Linked DNA regions of Homo sapiens: region 1 is linked to region 2. The links come from fine-mapping of genetic effects on gene expression. Tissue or cell type: whole blood. Region 2 holds a variant in brackets; the other region holds the start of a gene. All regions are shown on one strand. Distances are between the middles of the regions.

The links. PIP is the estimated chance that this variant, and not a neighbour inherited with it, causes the effect.
Region 1: CUEDC1 starts here. The variant in region 2 is fine-mapped to the expression of CUEDC1 in whole blood (TOPMed, PIP above 0.99).

What each region holds. Positions count from the first base shown.
Region 1 is chr17:57,952,227-57,960,328 of GRCh38, forward strand. CUEDC1 (CUE domain containing 1) reads right to left here and starts at 3,186. Exons shown (of 11, transcript NM_001271875.2): 1 at 2,999-3,186. RefSeq lists an enhancer at 251-752 and a silencer at 3,041-3,110.
Region 2 is chr17:57,893,373-57,901,474 of GRCh38, forward strand. The region is part of intron 1 of CUEDC1 (CUE domain containing 1); the gene reads right to left. Among named protein-coding and RNA genes, the nearest start is that of CUEDC1-AS1, 15 kb to the right of the region's middle. RefSeq lists a silencer at 5,596-5,890 and enhancers at 5,822-6,493, 6,494-7,164. The variant A/T (reference allele first, on the strand shown) is at 4,471.

The sequences.
Region 1 (8,102 bases), 59 kb after region 2:
TTTATGTTTTTTTTTTGGAGACAAAGTTTTGCTCTTGTCATCCAGGTTGGAGTGCAATGGCACAACTTCGGCTCACTGCAACCTCCACCTCCCAGGTTCAAGCAATTCTCCTGCCTCAGTCTCCTGAGTAGCTGGGATTACAGGCACACGCCACCACACCCAGCAAATTTTTGTATTTTTAGTAGAGACGGGGTTTCACCATGTTGGCCAGACTAGTCTTAAACTCCTGACCTCAGGTGATCCACCCCCCTCGGCCTCCCAGAGTGGTGGGATTACAGGCATGAGCCACCGCATCCGGCCTCCAATGCCCTTTATAGCTCTTGCTTCCTGTAAGTGCAAGAGCCAGCAACACAGAAGCACCACCTCCTCCAGCTCACCTTGGATAGTCAGAGGTGACCCCTGTCAGACACCCAGCTTCCTGTGCCCCAAGGCTCTAGAATACTCCTGCCTCTGCTGCTTATTACCAGAGCAAATGTAGGAAGCTCTAAAGGAAGAATACCAGTGTGAGTGCTGCCATATGCCAAACACTGTGCTCTCTAGTTAAACAAAGAAAAATCCCCTACAGCTCTCTGTGGGGGACTTGAGCCTAAGGAAGTCTTCTCAGTCCCAAGGTAGAGAAGTCACAAATGGCAGATCGTCCTAAAGCTCTTCCAGATCCCTAGCAAGTGTAGATGCCACAAACACCTATGCAGCAGCCCAGGACCCAGTGAGCCAAGAAAGGAAAGGCAGGCCAGGCCTCCTCTGGCCTGGGGCTGCACTGGGGATAGTGACAGCAGCCCTCTGGCCCCCACTTGCCTTCAAGAGTCCAAAGGGATCTAAGGAACCGACAACACCCAGATCATAGCCTTGGACAATTCTGCCCCAAGACCTCCTTAAGAGTCGTCTTTCACACTTAACACTCTCTACTAAAGCACCTCAACCCCATTTCCCCAAGAACAAGCTGGAGCTCTTAAAGGCCTGGATCTCACACCCAGCTGAAACACCAGAATATCCACCTCCACCCAAATCCCTTTATTTACCTCTAATTCAATAGACCAGTGGGCCTAGTCCAGTGCCCAGGGCCTTCCCACCACACAGACAGCAAAATGAGCCCCTGGAAAAGGGCCACCTCATCTGCCCCCATCCTCTAGCTAGCTGTAGGGAGCTGGGATCTGTCCAGACACTCCAGGTCTCCATGGCCACAAGCCCAAAGTTGCATAGGGAGGTCATGAGAAAAGACCTTAGAAGCAGTCTGCTCTTTGAACCCTGGGATTATTCACTGACCAGCCAAAAAGGTGACAACTGTTCTGATGGCCCAGGTCAGACCAGTAACTCTAGGGCAGAGGTCTCAATGGAGGTCCTGGTTCCAAGGGGGTATATTAACCGTCTGGTGTTGAATACAGGTGTCTCCCTACACACATGCATTTTGGAAGGAGAGGAGTTAGAGCTTTCACCAGATTCTCAAAGGGGCCCATGACTCCAACCTCTGGCCCTAGTTGGCCTGGCCCAGGAGCTGGGGATACAGCCCTAGTCATATCAACATCCCTGGGCCATCCTCGCTGTCCAGGGTCTCTCTTCTATTCAAGGATGTGCCCAGGTCGGTAGCAGTATCCTGTTTCCCTTGTCCTGGCCCTTCCAGCTGCAGAAAGTGGACAGCGGGTTTCACACCCAGCCCTGCTGCACACGCTCCAGCTTCCTGGAGACCCGAGCCAGGTTTCTCCCAGCAGCACCTCTCCATCCCAGAGATGGCACCATATTCAAACTGAGGTACCAGTGGCACTGACCCCCAACAACAGAGAGGACCCAGCTTCACACTTGATCCAGCAGGGGCCCAACCACATGGTGAGATGACTTCCTCCGTGAGAGAATTCCTGGGGTCCCTCACCTCCTTCAGGCACAGCTGGCTATAAAGAAAAGGGGTGAAAGGCCCAGTACATCTCCCTGAGTCCTTTCTCCTGGGCCAGGTGGCTCAGGTGCTGCGGGATCACCCAGGGAAGGCTCATTCCTCTCGCTACAAGACGCTGACTGCGGATCAGGTGGGGAGCACGGTGGATGGTCTTCTTGTATCCTCTATCGCCTCCAGGGCATCTTGTTTCTAAACTCCCAGGGAGTCCCCTCATCTTCTACTCCACTACTCCACCAAAAAAAGGAAAATCTAAACCCTCCCTCCCCTTAAAACACATTCCGTCTCAGGAATTTAATTTCAGTGTACGTTTCTTAGAGCTAAAACTTTTTTTAAGGGGAAAAGAAATGGGCAGGGCAGTGCTGGGTGTAAGGCGACCACGCGACCGAGAAAAGGAAGAGGGAGGAATGAATAAACGCTGACACCAGCCCCCCTTGGAGCTCAGAGCCTGGGGCACAGGAGCCGGCGGGGCGGGCGAGCAGGGGCGGGGACAGCGCATTCCCAACTTTCCCTGGCCGAGCTGACGGGAGATACAGCTCCCAGGGGACCGGGAGGGACCAAAAAAGGCTGAGCCGACCTGTGACATCGGCGGGGGGCAGGAAGCGAAGCTCCCCTCCCCCTGAAAGGCGCTCGGCTCCCAGCAGGCGCCCCCGCCTGCCGTCGCCGCCCAGCCTGCGCCCCCAGGCCCGGGCACTGCGGGGAGGGGCGCCCACACAAAAGGGGGAGCGGCGGGAGAGGGGACTCGGGCGAAGCCGGCTCCGGGAGGCCTCGTCTCCCTTCCCTGCGGCGCTGGCCCGCGCCCCCCGGTCTAATCGCGCGCCCCGCTCCCGGCCCCCCAGATGCCCGCACGCCCCCCGCGCCCGGGGCCCGGGATGAGGTGGGGGCTCGGGAAGGAAGGGCGGGCGGGGACCTGCCGCACGCGGAGCTCCCGGGGAGCCGCGCCGACAGCCCCGGGAATCAAACTCGCGACGGCCCGGCCCTCCCGGCGGCGCCTGGGCAACGGGTCCCGAGAAGGTGGGGCCGCTGGGCCGGGGCCGCGGCCGGGATTGCGCGCGGGGCGCCGGCGAGGACCGCGCCCGGGGCCGGGCGGGAGCCGCGGGAGCGCGGGGGTCTTACCGGGCAGCGCCACGCGCGTCCGCTCCGCGCGGGCCGCAGGGGCCGGGCCGCGGGCCGGGCGGGGGAGGGGCTGCAATCCGCAGCGGTGGCGGCGGGGCCAGGCTCGGCGGCGGCGGCGCGGCTGGGGCGCGGGGAGGCGGAGAAAGTGAGGCGAGGCCGGCTTCCTAGCGGCGGGCGGCGAGAAATGCAGCTGTCCCTGCGCGGCTGCCGGCAGGGCCACAAGTGGGGCCGCGCGGGGAGGAGCGGGGCTGCGGGCGGGGCGGGGCGGGGGCCCGGCTGCGGCGCCCCCGGGCCCTTTCCCTATGGCCGACCCCTTTCCAGAGAGGAGGGAAGCGGACCTGGGGGTCCGGAAACCTACATGGTTGCCGGGGGTGGAGAGGGGAGCACCCAGTGAAGGCTGGAAAAATGCCCTCCGTGTACCTCCCTCCCCGGCCGCAGTGACTCCCTAGCTTGCGGGCAGGAGGGCGTGAGCGGGGTGCCTCGACCTCCCGCGCAGAGCGGGGTGCGGGGCATCCTGCCCCTCCCAGCTGCGGAGAGGGTGGGCGGAGGAGACCTGAGACCTCCGAGACTCCGCGGGGAGCTAAGAGCAGGGCTGCCCGACAGGTTCCAGGTCAGTGCCAGGAACCCAGGGTGAGGACGCACAGCTGGGGCTTGGGACACAGGTGTGGAGGAGGGGCACCTCCCTGGAATTAGGGCCCCGGAAAGGAAACCAAATCAAATGCTGAGGACACAGGAGATGGTGGGAAGGGGGAGCAAATCAAAGCTATCACTCGTCCACACCGACAGATACCACCTGCCATCTCCCATTTTCTCCTCCCCCAACCTCCCCAGCATCCCTGATCACTTCAAGGGCTGCTGAGCCCTGGGAAGATTTTCCACGGAAGAACTTGTTTAATAAATGGGAAACTGACCTTTGCTATACTTTTCCCACGTGCTTTCATTTCAGACTCCAATTTGGGAGTAGGTAGCCTAGGTCAGGTGGTGACCACCAAGCACCCTGCTACCTAGGGGATCTGAGGAGGGTGAAGAAGGCCAGATGCAAACTAAGCTCTGTCCCCAAACAACTTGCAAAGGGTCTGCACCCTCCTCCTGGAAAAGTCTGCCTTACAGACCCATTTGCCCATCTGGGCCCAGAACCCCAGGAATAGCCCCCCTCTCCCCTCCTCTGAGCGCTTGCAATTTGCTAGCCTTGCTGAGACAGATCGACACGCTCAGCCTCAGAGACAGCTGATGGTAAAAACCACAAACCAAAGTGCCCCAGACACCAATGTGTTTCCATCATTTGCATGTCAAGGGCAAGTTTCTTCAGCAAGGTGGGAAACTGGGAGGGGGAGAAACCTCAGAACCACACCCTCCTCGGGGAGGCCCAACGTTAGGTTAGCATGTTGAACGGAACTCCAGGACTGGGTTTCCAAACCCCTCTGAGGATCTCCTCTCTCCTGCTCCTCTCTCCCCACACTTCACTCCCTGGTGCATTCAATTTCCGGGGGAGGCAGGGTGCTTGAAATCCCAGAAGATGGTCTTCAGGCCCCAGGTTAAAGATTCTTAATCCGAAGGGACAGACCCATGCCTCTATACTGACTCCTGGCTCCTTTCCCAGGTTGTAACTGAGAGCTCAGGATTTGTCCGCCTGGCCAATATAGTCTAGATTATGTTATCAAGTGTATTACCTTACACTTACCCATAGTGCAGTTCATTTGTCACTTTCCTGCTTACTTGCAAGATCCCTCTGCAGTTCATTCCTGTCACCTTGGCATTTCAGGAGCAGAAAAATGCATCTGCAAACCTGGAGATTTCCATTTGCACTCGCCTATGGATTGCTCATAATTTTTTTTTTTTTGAGACGGAGTTTCGCTCTGTCACCCAGGCTGGAGTGCAGTGGCACGATCTCAACTCACTGCAACCTCCGCCTCCCAGGTTCAAGCAATTCTCCTGCCTACGCCTCCTGAGTAGCTGGGGTTACAGGTGGGTGCCACCACGCCCGGCTAGTAAAATTTTTAAATACATTATTATTATAGTCATTAATAAAACCAGTTGCTCTAATGGACACTCTTCCTTGAAGCACACTTTTCTTGGGCTTTGCTAACATACTCCTCCTTTTGGGTCTGTCCTTCTGGAAGCTTTTTCTCAGACCCCTTCCCTGCCTCTCACAACTTCCCCACCCCCAGACACCTCCACCCACTCCCACCACTGCCTCTGAGCCCCCAGGGCTCCAGCCCCTCACACCAGCCGCCTACAGAGGGCCACCTGTGAGTCTCCCAGACACCTAAAACTCAAGGAGGCTAAAGGCGACTGAGACCGCTTCCCTACCTAAGCCACCTCCTCCTACTCTCCTGAATCCACCTCTGGCTCAGAGGCTGGAAGCCTCTGTCTCCTGTGCAGCTTCCCTGGCCCTCCACTGGTTATCAGATCCTGTTCATTTCTCCTTCTCTCACCGCCTCACTCCTCCACTTCTGCCTGGTTCAGGCCCTATTGTCTCTGCTCTTCCAGAGATGTCCCTTTTGCTTTCCAGCCCAACCTCCTATGTGCTTCAGGAAACTCTGTTAGTTCTTCTTTCTCCTCCCCTCTGCTTCAAAACTACAAACACTTCAGGATACCCCCTTCTAAGGGAACCTGGCCCCAACCCTGCCCTGCCCTCAAGTCATTGCCCTGTTTCTCTCTTCTGCATTCATCAGTAGGCCTCCCCTAAGAAGCAACCAGACCCACTCTCTGCTTCTTCAAGCCCTATTCAATCCTCAACTTCCTACAATCTGACTTTCTTCCCCTTCATCCTAGGGGAAGGTGATTTTTACAGGGAGGCACCGGCATCTTTCTAGGGGAAGATGCCTTTCCAAGGGAGGCAACCTTAGGCTCCTCATTGTTTCAACCCATGGGCCTCCTCCCTATCCCATTCCTTCACTCCATTGGAGCCCTGGATGTTGCTAACGCCTCCTTGAAACCATTCCCACCCTCATGGCTTCCTAGCCTCTGCGTCTTTCTATCCATTCCCTCATTTCTTCAGCTCTGCCTGCCCCAGGGGTTTCTCCAAGGCTGAGTCCTCTAACTTTCTAACCAACCCCTCTTTCCAGATGTTCTCACAGGGGGAATAGAGTGGGGCAGGTACCAACCCCTCATGGCTCCACTTGCAGACTGCATATATATATATATATATATATATATATATATATATTTTTTTTTTTTTTTTTTTTTTTAAGACAGAGTCTCGCTCTTGTTGTACAGCTTGGAGTACAGTGGCGCGATCTCGGCTCACGGCAACCTCTGCCTCCCAGGTTCAAGCGATTCTTCCAACTCAGCCTCCCGAGTAGCTAGAACTACAGGTGCACGCCACCATGCCCAGCTAATTTTTTTATTTTTAGTAGAAATGAGGTTTTACCATGTTGGCCAGGCTGGTCTCAAACTCCCGACCTCCGCCCGCCATGGCCTACCAAAGTGCTGGAATTACAGGCATGAGCCACCGCACCCGGCTATTTTTTTTTTTTTTTTTTTTGGTTGTTGTCTGTTTGTTTTGTTTTGTTTTGTTTTTGAGACGTAGTTTCGCTCTTGTTGCCCAGGCTGGAGTGCAATGGCATGATCTTGGCTCACTGCAACCTCCACCTCCCAGATTCAAGCGATTCTCCTGCCTCAGCCTCCCGAGTAGCTGGGATTACAGGCATGCACCACCACGCCCAGCTAATTTTGTATTTTTCGTAGAGACGGGGTTTCTCCATGTTGGTCAGGCTGGTCTCAAACTCCCAACCTCAGGTGATCTGCCCACCTCAGCCTCCCAAAGTGCTGGGATTACAGGCGTGGACCACCGTGCCCAGCCAAGTTTTATTAATAACATTACCCCCTCTGCACCTAGTGGAGTGTGCTGATGACCTGTCCGAGCACCCCACTCCCTCTCTCAAGCCCCTGACTGGCATGTGTTACTGCCATTGGACAAGCTGTCCCACAGCCACTGCACCTTCAGTGCGGGGAGCCTGGAGCCCATCATCTCCACATCCTTTGCAAGAATTCTCTGTCCTGGATAAGCAGCACCTCCCATTCGCTCAAGCTGCAGATGTTACATGCTGCCTTCCTCCCCTCGTACATTCAACCCCCTCAGTAAACTCAGGGCTTTCTGCTTCTGAGTTTCTCTGGAACCTGCCCCCTCTCCTCTGCCCTGGCTCAGGCCCTGCTGCCAGGGCCCTGCCTTTCAATCCATCCTTTTCAGTGCCAGCAGTTACTTTTCTAATGTACAAACCGGTGATGTCTCTGCACTGCTGAACAAGGTGGATGACTTCCCATTGCTTGGAGAATGAAATTTAAACTCCTGAGAGAGGCCCTTCCCAGGCTGCCCTTAACTTCCATTCCAGCTCTTCCCATTTTCTGTCCTCATGCCACCCACCCACTCCCGGGCTAGAACCAGCCAAGAACAGGGCAGTCACCATGGCTCACATCTGTAGTCCCAGCACTTTGGGAGGCCGAGGCGGGTGAATCACTTGAGGCCAGGAGTTCGAGACCAGCCTGGCCAACATGGTAAAACCCTATTTCTACTAAAAATACAAAAATTAGCCAGGCGTGGTGGCAGGCGCCTGTGGTCCCAGCTACCTGGGAGGCTGAGGCAGGAAAATTGCTTGAACCTGGGAGGTGGAGGTTGCAGTGAGCCAAGATCGTGCTTGACTCCAGCCTGGGTGACAGAGCGAGACTCAATCTCAAACAAACAAACAAAACCAGCCAAGAACACTTGCTGTTTCCACAGACTGAATGTGAAGGTGATGGAAGCCTTTTGCTAAGTCTGTGGCTGTATGAAGCTCAGATCGCTGGAGCATATGGCATTATCTACTGTGAGAATGAGGCTGATGGAGAGCCACTGGGCTCAGGCTTGGAAATGGTGAGCTCTGATCGGACCGTGGGGAAAACAGGACATTTCCCTTCTGAAGGTCCCCCAGCCCAGGGCAAATGCCAGGGCATGAATGGTTGATAAGGAGAGCAGACAGTTGCGGCTCTGCGACCAACCACATTGTCCCTGCCACCGTGAGACCCACTCCTCCTCCTAGGACTACCAAAGACAGCTTAAGAAGGCTGGAGGTAGAAAAGCAAGTGGTGTAAACTTCCAAATAATTTGGATAATCCTGACCCTTTC
Region 2 (8,102 bases):
GTTTCAGGCAGCCCTGACAGAGACGCCTTGTCCTCCTGCCCCTGCAAAGGCTTGTTTTCTTCCCAAGCTATTAATGTCGCTGCAGCTTCAAAAGCCGGGTGACCTTTAAACGCTGAGCCTCCTGCTCCTGCCCAAGGCTCGGAAAAGGCTTAATGGAAACTCGACCCAAATGGCCACAGCTGCCGGGGCTGCAACAAAGCCAGCCTCATTCCCGAGGCCCCCAGAGCTGCTGGGCAGCCACACCTGTGCCCACCCCCAGGCAGCCAGGAAGGGCAAAGAGGACCCTCGGGCACAGCCATTGGAGAAAAGAGGCCACTGGACCTTAGGGGAGGAGGAGGAGGAGCAGGGGAGAGACAGACAATGCTGTCATGCGCTGCTGTGTGACCTTGGGTACTTCTCTGGACCACTCATCTCTTCTACATCTGTAAAACACGAGAATTTGGCAGGGCACAGTGGCTCACGCCTGTAATCCCAGCACTTTGGGAGGCCAAGGCAGGTGGATCACGAGATCAGGAGTTCAAGACCAGCCTGGCCAAAATGGTGAAACACCGTCTCTACTAAAAATACAAAAATTAGCCAGGCATGGTGGTGGGTGCCTGTAATTCCAGCTACTCGGGAGGCTGAGGCAGAGAATTGCTTGAACCTGGGAGGTGGAGGTTGCAGTGAGCCAAGATCGTACCACTGCACTCCAGCCTGGGTGACAGAGCAAGACTCCGTCTCAAAAACAAAACAAAACCAAACCATGAGGATTTGATAAAAGGACTCCTAAACCTCTTTGCCAGGAAGAAGCCCCACTGCCACCCAGAGAAGCAGGACACCTGGTTTCCATGCCCACACAGCAGAGCTGCCGGCAGGGGTGAGGCTGGGGGCAGCCCCTGCCTTCCAAAGGCTACTCCATGAGCTGTGCAGGCTGGGCATGGCATGATGCCTTGGCCACCCCCACCCCTATCACTTAGATCTGTAAGGGTGGGGCATTCCTTTAAAAATTGTTTTTAATCTTTAAAAATCAGAAGAAAGGCCAGGCTTGGTGGCTCATGCCTGTAATCCCAGCACTTTGGGAGGCCGAGGCGGGCAGATCATCTGAGGTCAGGAGTTTGAGACCAGCCTGGCCAACATGGTAAAACCCTGTCTCTACTGAAAATACAAAAATTAGCCCAGTGTGGTGGCGCATGCCTGTAATCCCAGCTACTTGGGAGGCTGAGGCACTTGAATCACTTGAACCAGGAGGCAGAGGTTGCAGTGAGCCAAGATCACACCACTGTACTCCAGCCTGAGCAAGAGTGAGACTCTGTCTCAAAAAAAAATCAAAAGAAAAAATACGATTCAAAAAAGACCTTTTCTTTTCTAATTTTTCTCTCTCCTGCCTCAACACTTGTGGCCAAGTCTGTAGCCAATGGGAGATGTGGGGCAGGGACGAGGGCAAGAGGTTTCAGAGAAGGTGAATGAGGTCCCTTGTGGACAAATTGGTCCCAGAGCCTCAGTCCTAAGGACATCATCATTCATCTCTGCTCCTGAGGCCCAAATATCAGGTGTGGCTGCCACAAAAGGCACCATCAAGAAGCCAATTCTGCCTTCTAGTGAAAAAGATCCAAGATGAGGCTTCTCAGCAGAGAAACATGTCATTTGTTTGGTTCATCTTAGCAAGATAATGGTCATAATAGTCATAATGAGAATAGATAACACTTATTGCCTGCTTCCTTATATGCTAGCCACTACTCAAAGTGCCTTATTGCATGTTAACTCTCTTCATCCTCCCTACAGCTCTACAAGGTGCATATTACTACTGCTATTTCCACTTCATAGTAGAAAAATGAGGCGTAGAAGGGTTGAGTAACTTGTTCAAGGTCACACAGCTAAGTGGCCAAGCTGAAATTTGAACCCAGAAGGTCCGATTCCAGATTTAACACTCTGTATCCATTGGGCTTGATCACCATTCCATATTCCCTAGAGCCTAGCACAGAGCTGGGCACACAGCAAGAACTCAATAACTGTGAGTTAAATTGAATACTAAAGGACAGGGTTGCCCCTGGAGAGGCTGGGGGTGCCTGGGTGCCACTGGAGGTATAAGGGATGGTGCTTATGTCCAGGAAGCAAAGGAGAAGACAAAACAGTGGCAGTTTCCTCACAAAACCTTTTTCCCATCCTACTGAAGTTGTCAAGTTGCCTGAGCAACCAACTGTTTTCCACCACAACCTGGGCTGGCTGGGGACTATTTCCACAACAGTCCCTCACTCCATAAACAAAAGCCACCAGCTCAGCCAAGATATTCGACTCAGGTGCCTGGGAGGAGATCAAACCTCAGCGGATTAAGGGGGCTACTGTCCCCCTGCCCCTCCCCTCCCAGGTGCCACAGCTCTAGGGGACCCCACTGGGCTGGCAGGAACACGCGCGTTCATGCTACCAAGTCAAAGGGCCCACGCTGGAGGAAGGGGGCCACTGGTAACTCAGGTGCAGGGCCAAGGAAGCTGGGTTGGCTCCAGGCATGAGCTCATACTGGACCAGGCCCAGCTTCTTGGGAAAAGGGGTCAGCTGCTCCTCCCTGGGCTTCTCCTATAGGCAGTCAGGCTGAAGGCCCCCCCAGTAGGCTGAGTTCTGAGGTCTGGACAGCAGCAGGAGACACCTCTGGGTCCCCGGACAGGCAGCAATCCATGCCCCACAATTTAGCATCCGAACATGCCCAGGTAATCCGGGTCAAGGAACCCATGATTAGAAAGGAGTGCTCAGGATGGGCAGAGGAGGGTCCTGCAAACAGAACTCCCAACCCCTGCCCTTGCCCTCCACACTAAGGCACACTTTGCACCTACCTACTGATTCAGGAATTCCACTTCTATGAAATTTACCTACAGATGATATGTTTGCAACTGTGTTGAGTATGGGCATAAGGATATTCCTTGTAATAGTCTAACAGCAGAAGACTGGAAACACTCTACAAGTCTACCCGTAGCAGGCTGATGAAAATATGATACATTATCAGCATCCTCCTCTCTCTATATAATGCTATTCAATAACAAACAAAAATGAGGGATTTCAATATGTCTCTTTAGCCCAAGACCTAAGGGAACAATGCAAGGTACAAAACAATGAGTATAGTCACTCTACTATAGTGCATTATGGGGTGTGTGTGTGTGTGTGTGTGTGTGTGTGTGTGTGTGTGTATGAAATCCGAAAGGATTCACAAGAAACTGATAATATATGTTTCCCCTGGGGAGAACTGGGTCATAAGAGATAGATCAAGGAAATTTTTCCACTACAGATTCTTGTATACCTCTAAAATTTTGATTGATACTCATTTATTAATTTAAAAATAAAATATGCAAATAATCCATTATTATTGGATTACTAAGAACATTAAAGTAATAGCATTGCCAGTGATTTTTATATCTTTTTCTTCTTTCTTTTTTTTTTTTTTTTTTTTTGAGATGGAGTCTCTCTCTGTCATCCAGGCTGGAGTGCAGTGATGTGATCTCAGCTTATGCAACCTCTGCCTCCCGGGTTCAAGTGATTCTCCTGCCTCAGCCTCCAGAGTAGCTGAGACTACAGGTGCGTGCCACCATGCCAAACTAATTTTTTGTATTTTTAGTAAAGATGGGGTTTCACCATGTTGGCCAGGCTGGTCTCGAACTCCTGACCTCTGATAATCTGCCTGCCTAGGCCTCCCAAAGTGCTGGGATTACAGGCATGAGCCACCGCGCCTGGCCATGTCTTTTGCATATTATATCATCTACAGCAGACATAAGTTACTATTTAATAATAATTATAGCAAACGTCTATGAGCACTTGGTAGGTACATGCATTTTCTATATACTTGGCATGCATTATCTCATCAAATCCCCACAGTACAGCAATGAATACATCCATTTCACAGAAAAGAAAACTAAGGCTCAGAGAGATTAAATAACTTACACAGGGTCACATAGTCAGTGGCAGAGCCCGATTTGGAATCCAAACAGTCTGGCCCCGGAGTCCATGATCTTCTTAACTTCCAACCTATAGTGTCTCTAATTAAAAGTTTTTCTAGCCGGGCGCAGTGGCTCACGCCTGTAATCCCAGCACTTTCGGAGGCCGAGGCAGGTGGATCACAAGGTAGGGAGATTCAGACCATTCTGGCTAACACGGTGAAACCCCGTCTCTACTAAAAATACAAAAAATTAGCCGGGTGTGGTGGCAGGCACCTGTAGTCCCAGCTACTCGTGAGGCTGAGGCAGGAGAATGGTGTGAACCCAGGAGGCGGAGCTTGCAGTGAGCCAAGACCGTGCCACTGCACTCCAGCCTGGTCTCAATGAAAAAAAAAAAAAAAAAAAGTTTTTCTAGAATGTCTTTACTCTCTAATTAAAACAAAATTTTACAAAACCTGAATTATGGCCAGGCGCGGTAGCTCACGCCTGTAATCCCAGCACTTTGGGAGGCTGAGGCGGGTGAATCACGAGGTCAGGAGTTTGAGACCAGCCTGGCCAACATGGTGAAACCCCG[A/T]CTCTACTAAAAATACAAAACTTAGCTGGGCGTGGTGGCAGGTGCCTGTAATCTCAGCGACTCAGGAGGCTGGAGCAGGAGAATCGCTTGAAACCAGGATGCAGAGGTTGCAATGAGCCGAGATTGCACCACTGCACTCCAGCCTGGGCGACAGTGCGAGACTAGGTCTAAAAAAATAAAAACTGAATTGTGGTAGAAAAAATCTTAAGAAAGCAAACCCCAGAGCCTCCAGGGCTTTAAAACCTTTTCAATCCTAAGAATCCCAACCCAATCCTTCCTGCTCTGATCATTTAGGCAGGCTTTCTTCAGTCACTGCACCCCATGGTGCACCCTCCAACCTTGGTCAGGGACTCACCTGCCTCCTGCTGGGGATGCAGGGAAGGAATGAGGGCCGAGTGGACAAAGTGCTGGCTCATAGCATAGCTGTTTCAGAGGTAGAACCACAGTGTGGAGGGCCTGTTGGGGCACAACAGGGCTGGGGGTCTGGCCAGGAAGCTGCCGGTGGAGGGGAGACCACAAGTTGTTTACTGGTGCTATGTCTGGGGTAGGAAGCCATGGAGCGAGTGGTCAGGAGTGGGGCTTTAGCCTGAGTGGTCAGGAGTTGGGCAGTCCTCTGCTTACCTCCTGATCCTGCAGCTTATGGGGCAAGCAGGATTGCTCTGAGCAATCTGTAATATGGGGATACATATACCTTCTCAGATGGCGCTCCTGCAGGGGATTGACTGTGGTGGGCATGCACAGCACCCCACAAGGGAAGCTGTCAGTCAGAGGCAGCTGTTAGTAAGACTCTATGAGCACGGGCCATTCACACCCCAAGGCCACATAGTTCCAAGGGGCTGATTCTAGAGTCTGGCCCAGGCGTCTGGCCTGGGAATCCAGCCCTGAAGGGAGTGAATGTGGAGCACAAAGGCCTCCCCACTCAGGGACCTCCAGGACCTCAGGCTGAGAGGGCTCAGGGACCCCAAGGGAGGAGCAGGGAGCTGGGCCAGCAGCCCTGTGCCCATTCCTGCCCATACCCTGCCCTCCAGCTAAGCTTCCAAGGGTAGGAGAAGTGATTGGAATAATGCAGGGTGCCCACTCCTAACCAGGGGAAGGAGGTGGCTTGAAGGGGCCTGTCCCCCAAGGGAGGGGCTCCATGGGCTCTGGGCAGCAGGAGCACAGGCAGAGTGGCCCTCTCAGAAATGCCTTCTCTGGCAGCTGAGGAATGTAGGCCCAGGACAGAGGAACAGAGGCTGGGAGGGAGGGGTGGCTGGCCCAGGGCTGAGCTTCAAAAGAGCAGGCAGCAGCTGCGGCTGGGAGGCCGCCCGCCTCAGGCAGCCGGGACACCATCAGAAATTCCACCCAGAGTGAGAAGGGCCCAGCCCAGACAGCAGATGGGATAATTTAGAGCCACTCACTGCTGGGCCAGCTGCACCCCCCCAACCACAGACTGCTCCCTCCACCCGGCCTCAGCCCCTGCTCCGCCTGTGTAGCAGCAGCGATCCCCTTGCACAGTCAGGGGCGCCCAGAGCCCAGCTGCCCAGGTCCCCTCTCCTGCCCATCCACATACCCACGTGCCCACACGTATACTCTGGAGCTGCCACGGTTAGGGAGGCAGGAGAAACCTCATGTTTTCACTTCCACATGGTGCATGTTGCCAGAGGTCAGAGAGCCCAGTGGCTGCAGCACTGGGATTCGAACCCAGATCGTGAGACTCCTGGCCAGTGCTCTCTCCTTGTATGGGCACATACAGCAGCACATGCCAGCACACAGCTCACATGCCTGCATGTGCTAACAGGCTCCCACTCACTGCCACACACACCAGCTCACTCAACCCCATTCACTTGCACAGTGCCACATGCTCCTCCCAGGCCCTCGCAGCCATAGGACACAGACAACACTTTAGGATTTTTTTTGAACCGTCCCACACAGCCCAGGCACTCAATGTACTACTCCCCTCTTCGCCCAACTCTGAAGCTATGTTTTTAAAATTACAGTCACTCTTCTATACACACTCGCTAGTGCGCACTGACAGCACCCTCAGCCCTCCCACAGCCCACCCTCCAAGCCACCCCCTTCATTAGGCTGATAGCAGGGCCAGATGAGGCCCTGGGATCCCTCTCTTCCCCCATCTGCACCCAGAATGGGTTTTACAGCATTGGTAAGGTCAGGCTGACCTGACTTGCAGCAAAACTGGCCAGAACCAGGAAGTGGCACACCCTGGCCAAGACACCAGCTTCCTGGTTCCCTGCAGGCCCAGCTCCTAGAAGGCAGTGCAGGGAAGGACCTCAGGCCAGCTGGGGCTGGTAGCCTCAGCCCCAAATCTAACAATCAGGGGAAGGGGGCAAGAGCTTTTAGGGGTCCCATAACCAGCTTCCTTTCGCCTCCCGAGGGCCTCAATCTCTACTTCTAGAAAATGGAGAGAAACAGTCCCTGTTTGGTCTGATCATTGAAATCTTCCAGGGATATAGGTGGGGGCTGGGGGAGCCGGTCAGGACCAGAGAAAGGCACCACTGTTCTAGGCACAAACCAGGATGAGCCCTCTGCAGAAACAGCCTGCTGCATCCTAGTCCCCCAGGGATGGAAGGGTCTGTACACTTTCTTTAGCTACAGAACCAGAACCCCTTTCTTCAAATGAAACCCTCAGCAGAAGTCCATTATGTAAAGGCATTAAACAGAAACCTGCCCTCATCCACCCCCAGCAATTATGCATCATCAGAGAAGCTGCCATTTACCAAGTGCTAGGCAAAGTACTTCTCGTGCATCACATCATTTAATCCTCGTGACAATGTAGTAGTGCAGGTTATTACCTTCCACCATCATCATCACCATTTTATAGATAGATACACTGAGTCGTGTGTGACCTAGAGGTTGTCCAGGACTGCGCCACATTGAAATTGCATGTACATGTCAAGTCTCCTGACATACCACTTACTTGCAATGCATTTTAAAGCCTGGGTTTAATCCCTCATGCTCTCATCTTTAAAGCTGTTTGCATCTCTGCCTGTTCTGCTCACTGCTACTGATGAGGCTTCAGGAAATGCAATGAGCTTTTCCATCAGTCTAAGAAGTCAAATGTTCTTTGCACTATAGCAGGTGTATCTCAGAGGACGGTGGCGACCACCTTCCTCAGACTCCCCTGAGGTGTTTGCTAAGAACCCATATTCTCTAACCCACTATTAAATCAGAATCTCTGAGAACATGCTCTGGGGATGTGCTTTCTAACAAGCTCCCTGGGTCATTCTGATACACAGTAAATTGTGAGGACCACTCTCTTGCAAGGTGATGCAGTTCAGAGACCTGGATGCTGGTTTTGGTCCCATCACTAACTAGCCAAGTGACCTCGGACACATCATTTTACCTACTGGGCCTCCAGGTTTCCATCCGGAAAATGGGAGGGTAGGACTAAATAATCTCCAAGACTCTTTTCACCTCCAACATTCTCTGTGTCCACTCTAGGTTCCCAGCTGGTCCACAGGTATACAAACTGACTTTCACAGACTGCTTGGTCCCTGTAGCAGCCAGCGCACACTGTAGACACTCATGACATAAAGTTCCTGTCTAGTTGATTTAAGGAAACCTGAAAAAATACCTTACCTCTGGCTCTAGGCCCTAAACAGATGGCTTTTGGATCATCCATGCCACCTACCCCT